Linked DNA regions of Homo sapiens: all the other regions are reported to be linked to region 1. The links are microRNA targets in miRTarBase. Many come from high-throughput screens and were not tested one by one. Region 1 holds a microRNA gene; each other region holds the end of a gene's coding sequence.

What was found. The annotated mature microRNA hsa-miR-1225-5p reads GUGGGUACGGCCCAGUGGGGGG and lies in region 1 at 2,103-2,124, opposite strand. An mRNA with a match to its seed (bases 2 to 7 or 8) in the 3' UTR can be bound and repressed. Matches are read on the target gene's strand: a 7mer-m8 pairs with bases 2 to 8, a 7mer-A1 pairs with bases 2 to 7 and ends in A, and an 8mer does both.
Region 2: the mRNA of FAM229B is a reported target of hsa-miR-1225-5p. The part of its 3' UTR that is shown has no 7-base or 8-base seed match.
Region 3: the mRNA of POLR1G is a reported target of hsa-miR-1225-5p. Seed matches in the 3' UTR shown: 7mer-m8 at 2,142-2,148.
Region 4: the mRNA of KCTD10 is a reported target of hsa-miR-1225-5p. Seed matches in the 3' UTR shown: 7mer-m8 at 2,245-2,251, 7mer-A1 at 1,988-1,994 and 7mer-A1 at 1,441-1,447.

What each region holds. Positions count from the first base shown.
Region 1 is chr16:2,088,161-2,092,160 of GRCh38, forward strand. MIR1225 (microRNA 1225) reads right to left here and starts at 2,124; the gene lies at 2,035-2,124. TSC2 (TSC complex subunit 2) reads left to right here. Exons shown (of 42, transcript NM_000548.5): 41 at 67-165; 42 at 286-1,331. The coding sequence ends at 450. It overlaps PKD1 (polycystin 1, transient receptor potential channel interacting), which reads right to left. Exons shown (of 46, transcript NM_001009944.3): 40 at 3,887-4,000; 41 at 3,621-3,746; 42 at 3,263-3,437; 43 at 2,724-3,014; 44 at 2,514-2,648; 45 at 2,125-2,430; 46 at 548-2,034. The coding sequence ends at 1,567. It overlaps PKD1-AS1 (PKD1 antisense RNA 1), which reads left to right and starts at 3,276. Exons shown (of 3, transcript NR_135175.1): 1 at 3,276-3,454.
Region 2 is chr6:112,099,219-112,105,480 of GRCh38, forward strand. FAM229B (family with sequence similarity 229 member B) reads left to right here. Exons shown (of 4, transcript NM_001033564.3): 3 at 52-190; 4 at 1,452-3,572. The coding sequence starts at 66. The coding sequence ends at 1,569. Among named protein-coding and RNA genes, the nearest start is that of FAM229B, 15 kb to the left of the region's middle. RefSeq lists an enhancer at 1,025-1,814.
Region 3 is chr19:45,408,746-45,412,745 of GRCh38, reverse strand. POLR1G (RNA polymerase I subunit G) reads right to left here. Exons shown (of 3, transcript NM_012099.3): 3 at 2,009-4,000. The coding sequence ends at 3,245. It overlaps ERCC1 (ERCC excision repair 1, endonuclease non-catalytic subunit), which reads left to right. Exons shown (of 10, transcript NM_001983.4): 10 at 3,021-4,000. The coding sequence ends at 3,071. Among named protein-coding and RNA genes, the nearest start is that of POLR1G, 4.1 kb to the right of the region's middle.
Region 4 is chr12:109,447,350-109,453,611 of GRCh38, forward strand. KCTD10 (potassium channel tetramerization domain containing 10) reads right to left here. Exons shown (of 7, transcript NM_031954.5): 7 at 1,306-4,464. The coding sequence ends at 4,246. It overlaps MYO1H (myosin IH), which reads left to right. Exons shown (of 32, transcript NM_001101421.4): 32 at 1-1,030. Among named protein-coding and RNA genes, the nearest start is that of KCTD10, 27 kb to the right of the region's middle.

The DNA of each region.
Region 1 (4,000 bases):
CGTGAGCTGGTGGGACAGGCCCAGGTGCCACCTGATAGTGAGCTCACCCCCTGCCTACGTCCCCAGATGGCCTCACAGGTGCATCATAGCCGCTCCAACCCCACCGATATCTACCCCTCCAAGTGGATTGCCCGGCTCCGCCACATCAAGCGGCTCCGCCAGCGGGTAGGGAATATGGGGCTCCCTCAGCGGGGTGTGCTGGCTGCCCAAGCTGTGGGGCGGGTGTGTGGGCAGAGCGGTTGCCACGCCTCCCAGACTTACTGCCCAAGCCGCCTCTGCCTTCAGATCTGCGAGGAAGCCGCCTACTCCAACCCCAGCCTACCTCTGGTGCACCCTCCGTCCCATAGCAAAGCCCCTGCACAGACTCCAGCCGAGCCCACACCTGGCTATGAGGTGGGCCAGCGGAAGCGCCTCATCTCCTCGGTGGAGGACTTCACCGAGTTTGTGTGAGGCCGGGGCCCTCCCTCCTGCACTGGCCTTGGACGGTATTGCCTGTCAGTGAAATAAATAAAGTCCTGACCCCAGTGCACAGACATAGAGGCACAGATTGCAGTCAGACAGCTCTTTTATTGACTTTGTCTGCTTGGTGCGGGGGTTGGGGGGGTGTCGAGGCTCTAGAAGCGGCCATGCCCACAGAAGTGGTACACAGAAGCAGGCACAGCCAGCTCCGAGGGCCTTGAGGCTGCCTGGGCCATACAGCACACTCGCGCGTGCGCGCGCGCACACACACACACACACAGTCACCTTCCTCCACCCTGGGAGCCAGCCCCCAGGAGGAGTCTTTTCCTCTAACCACCCTGGGGTCCTCTGACATGCCTAGTCCTGCTACTTGCCCAGACCTGATGCCAGCAGGCCTGGGCGCTGCTCTCTTGCTACCTGGCCTGGGGCAAGGGAGGATGACAAGGCCTCTGGGGTGATGAGAGTGCCTGGCAGACAGCTGTGCCCCCAGCACCGGCCCAAGGCCAAGCTCGCATCCAAGCAGCAGCCGGGCTGCCATAACGCCACCACACCTACCAAGCGCAGCAGGTGTTGGGGGAGGCCAGCTCTGGGCGCAGGCCCCTCAGCCCTAGTGAAAATAGTGACATACAAAAATATACACATTTTAACACCATATAAATTACTGACACGAGACACACAGTGAGACGGTGCAGGGAGTACGGTAGGAACTGGAGAGGTAATAACTTAGGGGCAGGGTGGCGGCGGTGCAGGCTAACCCTCCCTGAAGCCAGCAGCCTTAGCAGTGGGGGACATCTGCCCAGGGGGTGGGGCCGGGCACAGCCCGCTGTACCTGAGGACTCGGGGAAATAAATTAGCATCTCAGAGGCTAGAAACCGTCCAATACTGCTGTGTCCTTCCCAAGGGAGCTGGGGAGGGGACCCTGGGTCCTGGTTGGCCACACAGCCTCTTTAAAGTGCTGAAGCCCACAGACAGACAGATGCCCCTGCCTGCTCTCTGGGGAACCTACGTGCAGCCATTCTGCCTGGCCCTCGGCCTTGACAGCGGCAGAAAGTAATACTGAGCGGTGTCCACTCCGACTCCACGGCCCACCCCCGCCAGGAAGGAGGACTAAGTGCTGCTGGGGTGGACCTTGTTCTTGGCCCGAAGGGGTGTCCTGCTGGGGCCAGTGGCCAGGTCCACACCCCGACTGGCCCGGGCAAGGCGGCTGGGCAGTGCTGGCCGCAGGCCCGGGGATGGGCCACGGGAAGATCCGGCGGGCGCCCGGCTGCTCCTGCGGCCTTGCAGGCTGTGCAGCTGCTGCTCCAGCTGGTAGACGTCCTCTGTGGCCTGGTTGAGTCGGTCAAACTGGGTGAGCAGGGCCTCGAACACGGCTTGGAGGCGGGAGGGCTCAGGCTCACACCTTGTCCCCAGCCGGCCCAGGCTCACGCTCAGCCCATCCAGCTGGCTGGAGGAGGTGGAGGGGTGCGAGGCATCGGAGCCAGCGCTGGGTGGGGGCACATCCGGGGATACCTTGGAGCCCCTGGAGGAGCGAGAGGGCAGCGGCTCCATCCCTTCAAAGCGGACTTTGTGGCGGAACTGGGGGCGGCACAGGGGCTCAGTCAGTCCGGCTGCACCCTGGGCAGAGCCCAGGGCGTGTCCCTCTCCCCCCCACTGGGCCGTACCCACCTCCTTGACCTTGCTGAGGCCCATCCAGAGGCGCAGCCTGCGCAGGAACAACTCCACCATCTCGTAGTCCTGGGGCTCCCAGGCCGGCCGGTACAGCTCTCCACGCAAGGCGTGGTAGCGCCAGCGGAGAATAACAGCCCCCAGCCGTAGGGCGCCCCACAGCCGCAGTGCCCAGAGCCCCACACACAGCAGGGGTGACAGGTGCCAGGACTCGGCAGGACACAGGGTAGAGAGCCCAGTCCCAGGGCACAGCACCAACAGGGCCTGGGCCACGCTCCAGAGGGAGTCCACACAGGAAGACACGAGCTGCGGGGAAGGCGACACCAGTGAGGGCGTACAGCTGAGCTGAGCTGAGCTAAGACGCCCTCCCCGGCCGCGCAGTCACCTACCAGGATGGCCAGCTGGGCGTAGGCTACCCCGAGCACCACCAGGCCCAAGGTGACCCCCAGGAGCTCTGGCAGAGCTCGGCATAATGTCTTGCCAAAGACGGACCACTGGCGCACGAAGCGTAGCTGCTGGGCAGCCTGCGGACGAGAAATCTGTCTGCTTGCAGCCCTGGGGTGTGCGCCCAGCCCCGCGCCCACCGGCCCAGCCCTCACCTTGACCAAAAGCAGGAAGAGCAGCGAGGCCGCCAGGCCACGGGCTGCGGAGCTCAGCTGCGCCACCTGGTCGAAGCTAGTGAAGCGGCGCGGGCGGCCGCGCACGAAACGGGTCCACTGGCGGTCAGCGGCACCCAGCTGGGCGAGGCGTACCAGTGCCGTGGCCGCCGTCAGCGCCACCAGCAGCCACCGCGCCCAGGCTCCGAGCCGCAGCACGCGCCAGCGCCCTTCCCTGTGCCAAGTACGGGCCTCGGCCACGGCGAAGTGCACGGCGAACAGCAGCAGGCACACCTGTGGGGGGCGCGGTCAGGAGGGCGGGAGGGACGCTGCCGGGGCGGGGCCCTGCGAGGGGGCGGGACGCTGCCGGGGCGGGGCCCTACGAGGGGGCGGGACGCTGCCGGGGCGGGGCCCTGCGAGGGGGCGGGACGCTGCGAGGGGGCGGGGCGCTGCGAGGGGTGAGACGCTGCCGGGGCGGGGCCCCGCGAGGGGGCGGGACGCTGCCGGTGGGAGGCGCGGGGTCTGGCCGGGGACGGGCGTACCGAGGTGAGCAGAGGCAGCGAGAGGCCCGCGCTGAGGCGGCGCAGCGCAAAGGGGCGGACGCTGAGGGCGGCCAGGGCGCGGCCGGCCGCCGGGAACTCGAGGCGCAGCGTGACGGCGGCGTGCAGCCCCACGGCCGGGCTGTAGCGCGTGAGCTCCAGGAACACAGCGCGGCTCCTGCGCAGAGGGTGCGGGTCAGTAGGAGCGGGTGGCAGGGCGGGAGCTGCGGGGACCGCGCAGTGCAGGCGTGGCTGAGGGGCTGTGGAAGCCGCCTAGGCCAGCGGGGGCCGGAGGAGTGAGGGTGGGCTCCTGGCTGGTGACTGCGGCCACCCCGGAGAGGGCAGGGGAGGGAGCTCCCACCTGTTGTCCAGCCAGTTGTGCAGCTGCAGGAAGCGCAGCCGGTCGCGGCTCTCCTCCAGGCTCAGGCCCAGCTCCTGCACGTAGCCCCCGCTGTCATACACGGCACAGGAGCCCCAGGACCATGCCCTGCCGGAGAGGGGTGGCGTGGGTGCCGCACCCCAGCCCTTCCGGCACCCCGGAGCCAGGCTGGTCAGGAGGCCGCGGCACTCCTGGAGAACTACTCCCTTGTCCTTGGCGTAGACGCCCGGGGCCCTCGCTCTGCTCACCCCAGCAGATCCGGCGCTGAATAGGCCCACGTCCCCGAGCCATTGTGAGGACTCTCCCAGCCAACGTCGTAATCGCTGGTGCTGAAGCCTCCTGCGGCCGAGCACGTGTGGACC
Region 2 (6,262 bases), not on the chromosome of region 1:
ATATTTTAATTTTCTAATCTAGGTTTTCAATATTTTAACTTTCCGATCTAGGTTTTCAGTGAAGTATGCCTTTTCAATTTGGAACCCAGCCAAGGAGGTTTCCAGTGGAAGGAGGAGATTCTTCAATTGAGCTGGAACCTGGGCTGAGCTCCAGTGCTGCCTGTAATGGGAAGGAGATGTCACCAACCAGGTAAAGTCTTCTGTCCTCACAAGTGAGGAGATATGTATTGGCTATCATCAATACAACCTTCAGCTGATATTCATTATTAGCAAGAAAAAACTCTCAGCAATTCAAAAACATTGTTGTTTCTAAGTTAGCGTATTAACAGAGCCCAGTTTTCCTTAGTGTAGAGTCTGTATTTTGTATTTCTGTAAGTCTTGATGATAGAGCAATTCATTCTCTGTCTTTCTGGTACATTTTTAGCTATTAACAACAACAACAAAAACACAATTACCTTTGCACCAACCTAATAGATTGTTTTGTTGATAGCTTCACGATTAGATAACATTCAATTAAACAAACAAAACTTCAGTGCTAGTATGCACAGGGCACTGTGCTAGGCATAAGGCTAAAAATATGAAAAAGACTTAGACCTCAGAGTTAATGTCACTTTGGCTTTGATTAGTATCACTTTGGCTTTGCTGCGACCTTTGGCAGAAAGAGTGATATAGAATCTGAAGATTCTGTGAGACAAAGTGTTTTTGCAGAATGATTAGTTCCATTTCTCTGATGTTTACCATAGCAAAACCTTAAATACTACATTGTTAGATTCTCATGGCTTGGAAATTTTGGGAACACAGATTTAAGTTTAACAGGTGTAGGTATTTAAAAATCGGAGTTAGTCAAGGATAAAATGGGCTGCTTTGGGAAGTAGTGAGCTCCCGATCTTTAGAAATGCTAAAGGCTGAATGACTATTTGGTGGGAATGTTGGAAAGGAAATTCATATATTCGATGTATTTTTGAACTAGGTGTCATTTAAGGGCCATTTCAAATCTGAGATTCTATCAACATTTGAACAGTATGTGGAATACTATGTTCAGTTTTGTATTTTACCACAAACATTCTTGTTTTGAAATCACTCAACTAAGGTGATTTAGGGTGCAAATGCACATGAATTGCCACGGTATTGTCACTTATGTTTGTAACTATGCACTTTTGTTTTGCCATTTAGCAATCATTGCATACCTTTCAAAATCAACATCCGGAGGATTATCTTTGAATATATGAATTTCCTGTGATTAAATATGTACGTCAGAGGCCACAATTTCTTTGTTATATCCATCTAAAATGGGTGCCTCGTCAGCATCACCATGTTGTACTCATTGTATGACATTCAGAGATTTCAAAGTGATTTAAAACAGTTAAATATACAATCAAACTTTGGTGCTCTGAAAAAAAATATTTCCTCTTTTTAGTATCTAACTACATGTCATCTGCTTTTTTATTCAGGCAACTCCGGAGGTGCCCTGGAAGTCATTGCCTGACAATAACTGATGTTCCCGTCACTGTTTATGCAACAACGAGAAAGCCACCTGCACAAAGCAGCAAGGAAATGCATCCTAAATAGCACCATTAAGTCTTTTGTCAAGGTCTGACTAGGTCAAGGGTAATGGACCAGTATCATCTGGTGATCTGGTAAACAAATAAAAGTGGTGGCACCTTTAGATGATGACAACAGTTGAGCTCTTTACTTTTAGTAAGACCGACAGAAATGTAGTCAGTAAAGCACATGTAGTGATAGGCTATCAGTTATGTCTGATACATAAGACAGAATAATATTTCACAATTAGAAAGTACCTTAGAGATCATCTTGCTCACAGTAGATCATTAATATCAATAATTAAAGATGAAGCTTAATCCACCATGGTCATCAGTCAGGTGGGGCTTATTCTAAATGCTTAATGTGTCTTAAGCTCATTTCCTTGTTCATATTTGGGTTGCTACTTGGCTAAATCCTTTCACCTTAGTACCCTAAGCCAGTTTCCTGGCTTGATACTATTTGATAATGCTCTGCTCAGGAATGATTATATTGGGTGAGAAATGGAGCCCTGGGGTTGTGTGTTTTGGAACAGTATTCAAGATCAAAGAAAGTTCTTAGTCCATGGTTAATCTGCAAGGCATTTAAGCCACTTCCATAGAGGAGCCCAGATTGTTGGTTAAATATATTGATAATGAAGTCAAAGCTGTGGTTCCAACCCCGATTTTTCCAAGAAAAATGACGTCTGGTTATCACTTTGTACACGAAGTGCTAACCAGGTATCTTGATAAATTGTTTACAGTAGGTATTGAGAAACCTCATGTGGATTTTTTAATTTGGTTAGATGTGGGATCACTTTTGAGGATGAGGCCAGCTCTCTATGTTCTCTTTTTCTTCTTGCAGTAGTCCCCAGAAACTCAGTCTGCTTTCCTTTTCTCTCGATGGCTGTCAGCACCCATCTAATGAAATTGTCTTCTCCAAAAGACTGACTTTAGGATCAGATACAATTTTCACCAGTGTTTTTTGTCTACCTTGCTGCTTCTGAAAATATACATATAAGCCTTTTAAAATGAAAAGTTTATTAACTTATAATTAAATAGACGTAGATGCATATGTGTTGCATTAGGTGAAAAGAAAAACTGCCAGGGAGTTATAAGAGGAAAAACTCTCAGAGCTCACACTGAGCTGGGAGAAGTTTGAATGCCAACCAGTTAAAGTGGAAAGATCTTGAACATGTGGGGCATTGAGTAGAGACTCAGAAAGGTTGTACTTTCATAAGAGATCCAAACTGGAGCTAGACTAAAGGCTAATGTATACCAATTTTAAGAAAGCTTAAAAATAAGCCTTGAGAGACTCAAGATGATCTCTAAGTAACCTCATTTTATCTGCCAAATAAAAATAGAACATTCCTTAAAGGAAGAAAACAAAATCGAGGCAGGAAATTGCCTGAGGCTGGAGAAAAAATGACAGGAAGGAGAAAGGAGTGATGAAAAATTCCTCAGAGGGCTGGGCTTGGTGGCTCATGCCTGTAATCCTGGCACTTTGGGAGGCCGAAGTGGATGGATTATCTGAGGTCAGGCATTCGAAGCCAGCCTGGCCAACATGGTGAAACCCCGACTCTACTAAAAATACAAAAATTAGTCGGGTATGATGGGCAGGTGCCTGTAATTCCAGCTACTTGGGAGGCTGAGGCAGGAAAATAGCTTGAACCCAGGAGGCAGAGGTTGCAGTGAGCTGAGATTGCATCACTGTGCTCCAGCCTAGGCAACAGAGTGAGACTTTGTCTCAAAAAAAAAGAAAAACAAAGAAAAATTCCTCAGAGCTCATACAAGGCTGGGTAGAATATGTGTTTCAACAATAGTGGATCTTTTAATATAGTACATGGATCATTGAGTAGAGTCTTCAGCAAAATATTGGCAAAGTAGGGTTAGGGTTAGGTTAGGGAGATGGGAATAGACTGAAGACTACTCTGGACTTGCCCTAACAGAGTTTAAGAGCAACATTTGAAAGGATCAAACTGATTTCAAGTAACTTGAGTGCATCCAAGGGGAGAAAACCCATCAAAATAAAAATAAAAACTACAATAAAATCCAGCACCAAAAGTGTAACATTCACAATGATTAGCATCTAATAAAAAGTTACCAGGCATGAAAAAAAAAAGGAAAAGGCAATCCACAGTCAAGAGAATCTTTAGTCAATGGTAATAGACTGAGAATGACAGATGATGGCATTAGTAAATGATATGGTTTGGCTCTGCGTCCCAACGCAAATCTCATGTTGAATTGTAACCCCCAGTGTTGGGGGAGGGACCTGATAGGAGGTGACTGGATTATGGTGAACACCTATATGGATATGAATATGGAGTATTCTCCATGGATATGGAGAACACCCCTTGGTGTTCTCATAATAGTGAATGAGTTCTCATGAGATCTGGTTGTTTAAAAGCGTGTAGCACTTCCTTCTTTTCCCTCTGTGTCTCCTGCTCCACCATGGTAAGATGTGCTTGCTTCCCTTTGCCTTCTGCCATTGTAAGTTTCCTGAGGCCTCCTAGCCATGCTTCCTGTTAAGCCTGTGGAACTGCATCATTTAAACCTCCTTTCTTCCTAAATTACACAGTCTCAGGTAGTTCTTTATAGCAGTGTGAAAATGGACAAATACAGTAGATCAGCTACCATAAATATCGTTCAAGTAGTAGATAAAAACATAATGAAGAAATAAATGGAAGGTATAAAAATGACCCAAATAGAACTTTTAGAGATGAAAAATACAATATCTGAAGTAAGAATATACACTGAATAGGATTAAGAGATTAGATACTGGAGAAGAAAATATTAATGAACTTGAATATATAGCTATATAAATTATCCAACATTAAGTACAAAGAAAAAAGCGTATAAGTTTTGTGTTTCATTATCAAGCAGTCTAATATATATGTAAGTGGCTTCTCAGAAGAATGGAGGGGGATAGAAAAATATTTGAAGAAATAATGGTCAAATTTTCCCCCAATTTGATGAAAACTATAAACTCACAGATCCAAGTATCTTAACCAACCCTAAGGAGAAGCAACATGAAAACAAAACAATGACATGTCCTAATTAAATTGAAGAGAAAAATCTTAAAACTTGATAGTAAATGACACATGCATTCAGAGAAAGAAACATAAGAATGAGAGCACACTTTTCATCAGAAGATATGAAGGCAAAAAGGCAATGGAGCAGTATCTTTAAAGTATCTTTCAAAAATGAAGGTGAAGTAAAGACTTTTCAGCCAAACAAATGCTGAGAGAATTAATCACTAGCAGATCTACACTATAAAAAATGTTCAAGGAAGTTTTTCAGGCAGAAAGAAAATGGTACTAGATGGAAATTTGGATCTTTAGAAAGAAAGAACACAAGAAATGGAAAATATGTGGATAAATATATAGGCTTTAAAATTTTTTAAGCACTAATAGATAACCGTTTAAGGCAAACTATGGCAATGATATTTTATGTAAAAGTATAATGTATAATACTAGCAAAAAAACAAAGGAGGAGGAAAATAGAAGTTTACTTTTGTAATTCTTAGACTATTTGTGAAATGACATAATGGTATTTGACAATAGACTGATGAAGTAAAACTTGAGTTATCTCTAAAACCTAACAAACAGAGTTAGAGCTAATACAGTAGCTCTAATTATTGTATGGTGGAGAGTAAATGTAATAAATATTACTCATTTAATTCTAAAGAAGACAGGAAAAGAGGAAAGAAGGAACAAAGATAATACATTTAAACCATATGATATTGATATTTGCATTAATTACAGAAGGTCTAAATTTCAGTTAAAAGGCAGAGATTATCAGATTGGCTAGAAAAGAAGATGCAACTATGAGCTGTCTACATGAGCCCACCTTAAATACTAAGACTCAGATAAATTAAAAGTATAAAAGGATAGAAATAGATATGCCATGCAGACATTAATCTGAAGAAAGCTGGAGTAGCTATGTTAATAATAGACAAGAAGATTTCAGAGCAAAGAATTTACAGAGGTAAAGAGAGACAATTCATAATGATAAAGGGGTCAAGACATCAAGAATACCTAACAATCTTAAATGTTTATGCCAGAGCTTCAAAGTACATGAAGCAAAAACTGATGCAATTGAAAGAAGAACTAACTCCACATTTGTAGTTCAGGATTTCAGCTGGTAGAACAAGTAAACAGAATCAGTAGGGATATAGAGGACATGACAATTGATATAGAACACTTTACCTAGGAACAGCAGAATACTGTATATTCTTTTCAAGTGCACATGGAAAATTTACCAAGTAGAACATATTGTAGGCCACAAAACAAGTTTCAATAAATTGAAAAGTATTCAAAGTATGGAAGGGTAGGCAAAGTATGTCCTACAGTAGAATTAAATTATAAGTTAACAATAGAAAGATACCTAGAGAATCTCCAAATATTGGAATACTAAGTGATACACTTCTGAATAACCCATGAATAAAAGAAGAAATGACTGAATAAATTAGAAAGTGCTTTGAACTGGATGAAAACAAAAACACAGCATATCAAAATGCATGGGTAGCGCTTAGAGAGAATTAAGGCAATAAATTATTTCATTAGAAAAGAAGAAACATCTCAAGGCAATGATCTAAGCTTCTACCTTAAGAAAACAGAAAAAAATGAGCAAACTAAATCCAAAATAAGCAGAAAGAAAGAAGTAATAAAGAGCAGAAACAATGATATAAGAGCAGATAAATAATAGAGAAAATCAATAGAAACAAAAGCTGGTTCTTAAAAAAG
Region 3 (4,000 bases), not on the chromosome of region 1:
AAAAAAAAAAGAATAAAAGGCTTCTGCACAGCAAACATTCCACAAAGTGAAGAGACAACACACAGGATGGGAGAAAATATCTGCAAACTAACCATCTGACAAGGAATCAATAATCAGAAGATAAGAGTTCTAACAACTCTATAGGATAAAATATAATAATCCAATCAAAAAGTGGGCAAAATATTTGAATTAACATTTCTCAAAAGACATACAAATGGCAAGCAGGCATATGAAAAGGTGCTCAGCATCATTGATCATCAGAAAAATGCAAATCAAAACTACAGTGAGGCTGGGTGCAGTGGCTCATGCCTGTAATCCCAGCACTTTGGGAGGCCGAGGCGGGCAGATCACTTGAGGCCAGGAGTTCAAGATCAGCCTGGCCAACATGGCGAAACCCCATCTCTACTAAAAATATAAAAATTAGTTGGGTGTGGTGGCGCATGCTTGTAATCCCAGCTACTTGAGTGGCTGAGGCAGGAGAATCTCTTGAACCCGGGAGACGGAGGTTGCAGTGAGCTGAAATCACACCACTGCCCTCCAGCCTGGACAACAGAAGCAAAACTCCATCTCAAAAAAAACCAAAAATAGGCCGGGCATGGTGGCTCACGCCTGTAATCCCAACACTTTGGGAGGCCGAGGCGGGTGGATCGTGAGGTCAGGAGATTGAGACCATCATGGCTAACATGGTGAAACCCCGTCTCTACTAAAAATACAAAAAAAAATTAGCTGGGTGTGGTGGTGGGCACCTGTAGTCCCAGCTACTCGGGAGGCTGAGGCAGGAGAATGGCATGAACCTGGGAGGCAGAGCTTGCAGTGAGCCGAGATCATACCACTGCACTCCAGCCTGGGTGACAGAGTGAGACTCCATCTCAAAAAAGAAAACCAAAAACCAAAAATAAACTATAATGAGATACCATCTCAGCTCTATTAAAATGGCTTATTATTATTTTTTGAGATGGAGTCTCACTCTGTTGCCCAGGCTGGAGTGCAATGGCATGATCTCAGCTCACTGCAACCTCCGTCTCCTGGATCCAAGCGATTCTCCTGCCTCAGCCTCCTGAGTAGATGGGATTACAGGCACTCGCTACCATGCCCAGCTAGTTTTTGTATTTTTAGTAGAGATGGGGTTTCCCTAGGTTGGTCAGGCTGGTCTTGAACTCCTGACCTCTGGTGATCCACCCACCTCGGTCTCCCAAAGTGCCGGGATTACAGGTGTGAGCCATGGTGCCCGGCCTTAAAATGGCTTTTATCCAAAGGACAGGCAATAACAAATGGTGGACAGGCAATAACAAATGGTGGCGAGGATGTGAAGAAAAGGGAACCCTCATATACTTTTGATGGGAATGTAAATCAGTACAACCACTATGGAAAACAGTTTGGAGGCTCCTCTAAAAACTGAAAAGTTGAGGTTCCACATGATCCAGCAATCCCACTGCTGGGTATATCCCCAAAAAAAGGAAATCAGTGTATGGAACAGGTATCTGCACTCCTGTTTGTTGCAGCACAGTTCACATTGCCAAAACTTAGAACCAACCTGTGTCCATCAGCAGATGACCAGGCAAAGAAAATGTGGTACTTACACACAATGGATACTCTTCAGCCATAAAAAAGAATGAGATCCTGGCTGGGCGCGGTGGCTCACACCTCTAATCCCAGCACTTTGGGAGGCCGAGGCGGGCAGATCACTTGAGGCCAGAAGTTCAAGACCAGCCTGGCCAACGTGGTGAAACCTTGTCTCTACTAAAAATGAAAAAATGAGCTGGGTGTGGTGGCGCGTGCCTGTAATCACAACTACTTGGGAGGCTGAGGCAGGAGAATCGCTTGAATCCGGGAGGCGGAGGTTGCAGTGAGCCAAGATTGTGCCACTGCACTCCAGCCTGGGCGACAGAGCGAGACCCTTTTCAAAACAAAACAAAACAAAACAAAAAAAACATGAGATCCTGTCAATTACAACATAATGAACTGGGGATTATTATGTTAAGTGAAATAAGCCAGGCACAGAAAGACAAACATTGCATGTTCTTATTTATTTGTGTATCTAAAAATCAAAACAATTGAACTCATGGAGATAAGAGTGGATGGATAGTTCCTGGAGGCTGGGGAGGGTAGTTAGGGGCTGGCAGGGAGATGGGGAAGGTTAATGGGTACCACACACACACACACACACACACACACACACAAAGAAAGAATGAATAAGACATACTATTTGATAACACAACCAGGTGACTATAGTCAATAATAATGGTACATTTTAAAATAACTTGGCAGGGTGCGGTGGCTCACACCTGTTATCCTAGCACTTTGGGAGGTCAAGGCAGGTGGATCACGAGGTCAGGAGTTCGAGACCAGCCTGGCCAATATGGTGAAACCCCTGTCTCTACTAAAAATACAAAAATTAGCCGGGTATAGTGGTGGGCACCTTTAGGCCCAGCTACTCGGGAGGCTGAGGCAGGAGAATCGTTGGAACCCAGGAGGCGGAGGTTGCAGTGAGCCAAGATCACACCACTGCACTCCAGCCTGGGTGACACCAGGAGACTGTCTCAAAAAAATAATAATAACTTAGCCAGGCGCAGTGGCTCACACCTATAATCCCAGCACTGGGAGGCTGAGGCAGGCGCATCAGGAGGTCAGGAGATCGAGACCATCCTGGCTAACGTGGTGAAACCCCATCTCTACTAAAAAAAAATACAAAAAATTAGCTGGGCAGGGGCCTGTAGTCCCAGCTACTCAGGAGGCTGAGGCAGGAGAATGGCGTGAACCCGGGAGGCGGAGCTTGCAGTGAGCCGAGATTGCGCCACTGCACTCCAACCTGGGCGACAGAGCGAGACTCCATCTCAAAAAAAAAAAAAATAATAATAATAATAATAACTTAAAAAGATTGTAACTGGATTGTTTGTAACTCAATGGATAAATGCTTGAGGGTATAGGGGAAAATAAAGAACCAAAACCCCACTCTAGATTTACCCAGGAAACAGCTCCTTTAATGACTGGTTCCTCATTTTTTTCTCCCTCCCATCCAGGCCCGGAGGCTGTTTGATGTCCTGCACGAGCCCTTCTTGAAAGTACCCTGATGACCCCAGCTGCCAAGGAAACCCCCAGTGTAATAATAAATCGTCCTCCCAGGCCAGGCTCCTGCTGGCTGCGCTGGTGCAGTCTCTGGGGAGGGATTCTGGGGGTGTCACCTTCTGGTGGCCCAGGTGGGCACCTTCAGCTTTCTTTAGTTCCTCAGTTTCCCGGGGGCAGACTACACAGGCTGCTGCTGCTGCTGCTTCCGCTTCTTGTCCCGGCCTGTGGGAGCCTCCTCCCCAGACTCTGAATTCAGTGGCGGCCCTGGCATCTCCTCTTGGGGCACTGTCTCTGGCATCCGGCTTTCCTGACTCTGCTTCTTCCTCTTCTTGGTGGATCCCGGAGTTGCCCTGGCTTCAGGCTGTCCCTCCCCTGGCAGTTCAGGCTCTAGTGGCTGAATTGGCTCAGTCACTGTGTGACCTCTCTCTTTCTTCTTCTTCTTCTTCTTGGTGGATGTGGGAGCTGCCTGAGGCTCAAGGTCATCCGGCAGCTCAGGCCCCACCACCTCTGTCTCTGGCTCCACTGTGGCATCTTGCTGTTTTTCTTTCTTCGTCTTCTTTTTGGGAGCTGCCAGAGCTGCCTGGGCCTGAGGCTTCGCTCCTTCTGGCTGTTGAGGCGCCATGGTCCCCCCTGGGGACTCCAGAGGCTTCATCTCCGGCTCCACTGGCTCCATCGCCTCCGTCCCTGGCTCCATCATTGCCATCTGTCCCTTTTCTTTTTTCCTCTTCTTCGTAGGGGGCAGAGGGATGGCTTCCTCCAGTGGCTCCACCTTCACCTGTGGCTGAGACTCAACTGTCACCCCCTCCTCTGGCTCCATCCCTTCCGTCCCCTTTTGCCTCTTTCTCTTTTTGGTCGGGGACAGGACTGTGTCTTCTAGAGGCTCAGTGTTAATCTGTTCCTGCTTCACTGTCTTGTCTTCTGGCTCGAAGGTTTC
Region 4 (6,262 bases), not on the chromosome of region 1:
CAGCTCCTCAGCTGCCCCATGGCACCTTATTTAAAATGTCACCTTCTGGAAGCAGACCCCAGGTCACCCGAAGGCGCAATTCTAAACACCCTCGACAGGATCTATGTTCAGTGCGCAGTCCAACGTGTCATTAGAGGGTGGGCAAGATTCTCTACCTCTGTCAAGCTGCCCTGAGACATGATGAAATACTGTGTACAGCAAGTTCTCAAATAACATTTCGTTATATGTTGATAAGACATCTGATTCCTGGGCAGGGCCACTGTCTGGGTGGAGTCTGTATGTTCTCCCCATGTCTCTGGGTTTCTTCTGGGTGCTCTGGTTTCCTCCCACGTCCCCAAGGTGTGTGTGTCAGGTGCACTGGCGTGTCTATGCGGTCCCAGTCTGAGTGAGTGTGGGTGCGTGAGCCCCGTGAGAGGAGGACATCCTGTCCAGGGTGGGTCCCGCCTTCTGCCCTGAGCTGCTGGGATTGGGCTCTGGCCATCTGCAACCCTGAACGTGCAGGTTGGAGAACGAATGAATACAAATTTTATTGTAAAATAAAAATGTATATAAAGCATATGAGCACACAAATGGACAATAAATGCCACAGCGCAAAAGCGTGTAGCGAGCCTGCCACGCTTGTGACTGGGGAGGGGCTCCGTATAATCTCACCTTTGCAAGCGTTTATTTACTGATGTATGCGGCCACCACTGTGACCACCATCACTTACCGATTCACCAAAACTTAGGTAATATGGTCTTATTTTTGATTTAATTAAATATACGTGTAGCTCATGTATTTCACAGTTTAATATGAGAAGTGCTTTGGTCTTTATTTAGAAATTGGGTGATGTTTTTGTGCCCAGCAACATGCTGTAGGAATTTAACTCTTGTTTACATCCATTAGCCTCATGGTTTTGCTTCAAGTCTCAGCTTCCAAGAACCTATCGATGACTTACTGTGCATGGTCTGAGACTAAGTAAAGGAAATTTCCTAAAGCTGTGAAATTTGAATTTTGCTTTAAATAAATGGAACTCACATGTGTCAAGGGATTGGGTTTGGTGAACTGAAGCCCTCTGCCCCATAATAGCAAATCAGTGGTAACACCAGCTGATTCACTTTTTCATGAGCCAGGCAGCCTTTGACCCCAAGACTTCCTTTTGGTGTTTGAATTCAAACAAACACTACAGAAACATGACTGTCTTTTCCCTTCCACCTGGAGCGACTTTAAGGGGCTGAGGCAGAACGTGGGGGCCCTGCCTTTGTTGTAAACCGATTTTAGGGGCCTGGTTATGCCGGGCATGCCTGAAAAGAGCCAGAAAACAGAAGCATTTTATGACTTTTATTTTACATGTCGCCAACGTTTGTACAACATACAGTGGCTACATCTAAAACTTTGAGCATTTTTTTATGGCGCAAAGAGACAGAAAGGTTAATGACACACTTAACTGTTACAGTGACTTTGGGTAGGGCCCTAAAGACAGCACACGCTCCAGAGGGCGGGCTGAGTGTTGTTCACACTTGGGTCCTGAATCGCTGTTGTAAGGTACAGAGACACACTTTAACTGGGGAATGGGGTCCCCACACAGTGATCGCCCCACGGGAGGGTGACAGAATATGCCAGGAATTGTCTTGGACATGGGCCCCAGTCACCACAATCAGATGGCTTATTTGAAACAAACAAACAAAAAAAACCCTTGATTACGACACACCAAAGCTGTTCCAATTTGTAAAAAACTGTAGTTATTACATTGCAATGAAATCTCTTTACCAAATCTTGGGCCAGTGTTTTACCTGGATAGTGCTTACATTATAAATATTGGTTTTTGCCCTTAGTGCTAACATAAGAAAAATCAGTTCCTTGTATACTCAATAACAGAGCTTGGACCAGCCAATGCTGTCTATTCACTCATGGCTATAATGCAGCCGACAGAATTGTTCACCATGGAATGTTTTATAAACCTGTTCATATTCCAGAGAGACAAAGACTCAAAACTACAAGTGCAAAGTTGGGTAGAGAGAGCTGCCAGAAACACTAGCTCATTAGGCATAGAGGCCACAGCAAATCAAATTGTTCCACAAACTCATTCTTCACACAAACATTTAAAACACTATGCAGCCAGGTGTGGTGACTCACACCTGTAATCCCAGCACTTTGGGAGGCCAAGGTGGTCGGATCACAGGGTCAGGAGTTCAAGACCAGCCTGGCCAACATGGTGAAACCCCATCTCTACTAAAAATACAAAATTAGCTGGGCATGGGCTGATGGGTACCTGCAATCCCAGCTACTCGGGAGGCTGAGGCAGCAGAATCGCTTGAACCCAGGAGGCACAAGTTGTGGTAAGTGGAGATGGTGCCACTACACTCCAGCCTGGCCAATAGAGCAAGACTCCGCCTCAAAAAAAAATTTATACAATGGCTTTTCCATTTTCCTGGCCAACATTCACTTCGACTTTCTAAAAAAGCTCAACCCAAAAGAAAGACAGGGTTGGTGTTTAACACTTAAACAGTATAAAATATTTACGAAACATTTTGTAAGCCCTCTTTCCTTAGCACTTAATAAAATCCAAATGGCCTAATATAAAAGTTTCTCACACGACAGTTTAAAAAGCATCTGCCCAATACACGATTTTGACATTCAGTCATGATTGTTTTAAAGTTTTATTGTAGACTTTGCTGTTGGATACAAAATGAAGGCATACAACTGTCACAGGCAGGGCAGTAAGTACAAAGTCTAAGCTGTAAAAACCGTTTGAAAATATAAACTCGTTTTTGGAATACATGTGTCAAAGGCTGCCCATGTTAATACCTTTGGTATAAAACGGTAACGATTCCCTTGACAAACCCATCCATCACCTGACGCACATTCACATCTCCTGGTAACTACTCTACCTAGTCTAGTCTCAACCACCCCTGTCAGTCACGACTCACTCCTGTTCCTTTGCAGGTGCAGAGGAGCCTGGGAGGTAGGTCACTGAGAACACCCGTCCTACATAGGCGCTGCGCCCAGCCGGGCTCCAGCAGGGGCCGCCACCTGTGCCCCACAAGCACACGTCCCCACCCACAGTCACACATATCCCTTAAACAAACATGAACACAGACACAAACCAGACCCAAAGTTATCTATCTACCCGCACATCCTCAACCTGTTCACTGCTGGCCACTCTACACTGTGTAAAAATCAGAGGCAAAGACAAGGGGGTCTGTGTTTATAGCAGGGAAGCTCCCTGGGGCTGGTGGTGTGAGGGTGTCCCTGCCTGGATGCCAGGCTGGGAGGACAAAGGGTATGGGCCACACTGAATTTCTAAGCAAAATGACTTAGAAAGTTAGCCCAGCTTCATGGGGAAGGAGGCTGAAGAGGAGCGGGATCCCAGGGAGGGGTAGTTTATGAGCTATGCCTGTCACAGGGTCAGATGGCCTTCCTGGAGTGGAGTCGGGTCAATCAGGAGAACAACTGGACGGGGCTGGAGTTGGGGAAAGAACCAGAAACAGAGCTGGACACTTACTGCCATGGAAAGTTCTGCTCCTACGCAGACATATGGGGTCCCAGTGAGCACCAGGCCAAAGACCAGCCCAAGGTGGCAAAAGGCTTGATCCCTAAACAAAGCCTTGCACCCAAAGTTGCACTGGTCTCAACGATTTAGACGCTCATTCAGCCATATTTCCACTGCCACAAGCTGCAATTATCAACAAGCTCTAGGCCCAAAGCCACATGGCAGAAAGCACGTCTAGCAAAGCAGTGGGGATTGTGCCCGGGCCAAACACACAGGAACCAGGAGTGGACCTGCTGGGGCTGGAGGATTATGAAATAGGAAGCAGGGAGCTCAGATACCTCTGGTGGCCTCCAACTGCAGGACAACTCTCAGAATTGTCAAACTGAACCCTTAAGGGAGTGTCACCCAAAAAGCCCACATAGGAAGTCGACACCCACAAAAATAAATATTGCAAACAAAAGTTCTCACATACACTTCACACTCATTCATACTTTTCCTCTGAGAACCGAGAAAGCCTGGCTCCAAAGAGTCTCAGATTCTCATGAAAAGTAGAGATCTTAGACACAGCTTGTTCAACGACAGGGGTCATACGCCTGGGTCAAGACAATCAATTTGCCTTGTCAAGCAATACCAAAATAATCATCTGGCTTGTTACAAAAGTATCTCCAGGCTCCAAGGGAAGCAGAAGGGGCCCGGCAGCCTGCACAGGATCTGGGTGTAGCACGGCAGGGAGTGGGGGCGGTGAGAGGAGGGCGGCTCGGTCTCTTGCCTGCTCACTGGTGGAGGTGGGCCCGGTCATCAGGGCGCTTGATGTGGATCCTCCGCACGCGCTCGATCCGCTCCCGCTCCTCGTCCTCGTCCAGGTGGTGGGAGCGCCCCGCCGCCCCGCCTGTGGCCTCCAGGAGCGCATTGTCAGGTCCCCGGCCATCCTGGGCCTCATACAGCAAAATGTTCAGGGTCTCCTCATAAATCCGGGCTTCGGGAAACTCCACCTGTGTTCCCACAGTATACAGGGCAGGTAAGTTATGGCCCACCCCCTCTGCCAACACCTGGACTTTAAGCAGGGCCGCCAGGCTAAATCAGGCCCCTGGGATTCTGCTGAAGGCCACCAGTATTATTTTTAAATAAACTGATATTTTCAATGGCAACACTTACATGTGGTGCTAAATGCACAGAAAATCAAGGGGATGCAGAGAAACAGGTCTCCCTGCCCCTAGTTTCCCTTCTTAAAGGTACAGTTTCTCATCATTTTACCCTCTCAAAGATTCTGTGCATGTAAATATGTGTAATACACATATTTATTCACACACTTCAAAAAACACACAAGGTGGCCCACCACACAGAGTTGTACATGTCTTCCTCTTGTGCCTAACTTAACCTAGAGATCATTCTGTATCAAGGAATTATAAATACGACAATGCAATTAACCATACTTGGATGGCCATTTAGGTCAGTGCTAATATGCTTCTCCTAACAGAGCTGCAACCTTGCACAGAAGTCCTTCCACACCTTAAAGCAGTCTCTAAAGCAGTTTTTTGTACAGGGTCCAGCTGGGGACTCCCACGAAATGGGCATGAGCCCTTCTGCTGTTTGGCAAATCATTGTGTTTGCTCATTGCCCTTCAGGGTTAAGGTGTGATGAACAGGAAGAGGGCCACATAAGCAGGTCCCACACATTTGATCAGACTAGACTCCACTTTCAGGGTGGAATTCGGAGGTTCTGGGAAAAATGGAGCAGGCACACTCTACCCCGTCTTCCTCACTGACACTACAAAGCCAGAATGGGATGCACACAGCAGCTAACTGTGGACTCAGAAGTAAATCATGGCAGGCAGATGGGGGAAACAACAGAATTTGGAGTAATGCCCAACAGTGAGTTTACTGTTTGCTGCTGCCAGCACTGATGCAGCCTGAAACCCTGAAATGGCACCAGGACAGAAGACCTCCAGAAGGTCTCTAGTGGCCAGGGAGGCCAACAGAGTCTAACAGGCAGAGAGGCTGGGAGGAAATCCTGGTTTTCTTTCCTTTTTTTTTAAAAGATATGGGATCTGGCTAATTAAGCTTTAAAATTTTAAGACTTCTCATTTTTAGAGCTTAATAAGGAGCAAGGGGATTTAGAGACCACATGGTCTGATCCCAACTGTTTCTTGATTCACAGACCAGGTTCAGGAGTGGCGTGTTCTTGTGTTTGTGAAGCTGGTTAGGGGCAGAGCCAGGACGGGAGTCCAAGGGCCTCTTTCTTTTCTCTTTTTTGTTTTGAGAGGGAGTGTTGCTCTGTCACCCAGGCTGGAGTGCAGTGGCACAATCATAGCTCACTGCAGCCTTGAACGCCTAGGCTCAAATGATTCTCCCACCTCAGCCTCCCCAAGTAGTTGAGACTATAGGCATGCATCACCATGCCCAACTAACTTTTTGTAGAGATGAGTGTGTTGCTATGTTGCCCAGGCTGGTCTTGAACTACTGGGCTTAAATGATTCTCCCACCTCAGCCTCCCAAGTAGTTTAGACTACAGGCACACACCACCATGCCCAGCTATTTTTTAAAAAATTTTTGGTAGAGACAGGGGTGTTGCTATGTTGCCCAGGCTGGTCTTAAACTCCTGGACTCAAGCAATCCTTCTGCTTTGGCCTCCCAAAGTGCGGGATTACAGGTGTGAGCCACCATGCTCAGTCCTTTTCTTTATTTTCTTGCACCCAGACCTGAGCATTCCTGTGGCAGCAACCAGAGACTGCAGGAGTCAAAACTCTGAGGGAAGGAACCTTCTTTTCTGATGAGAAGAGCTGTGGTCTCA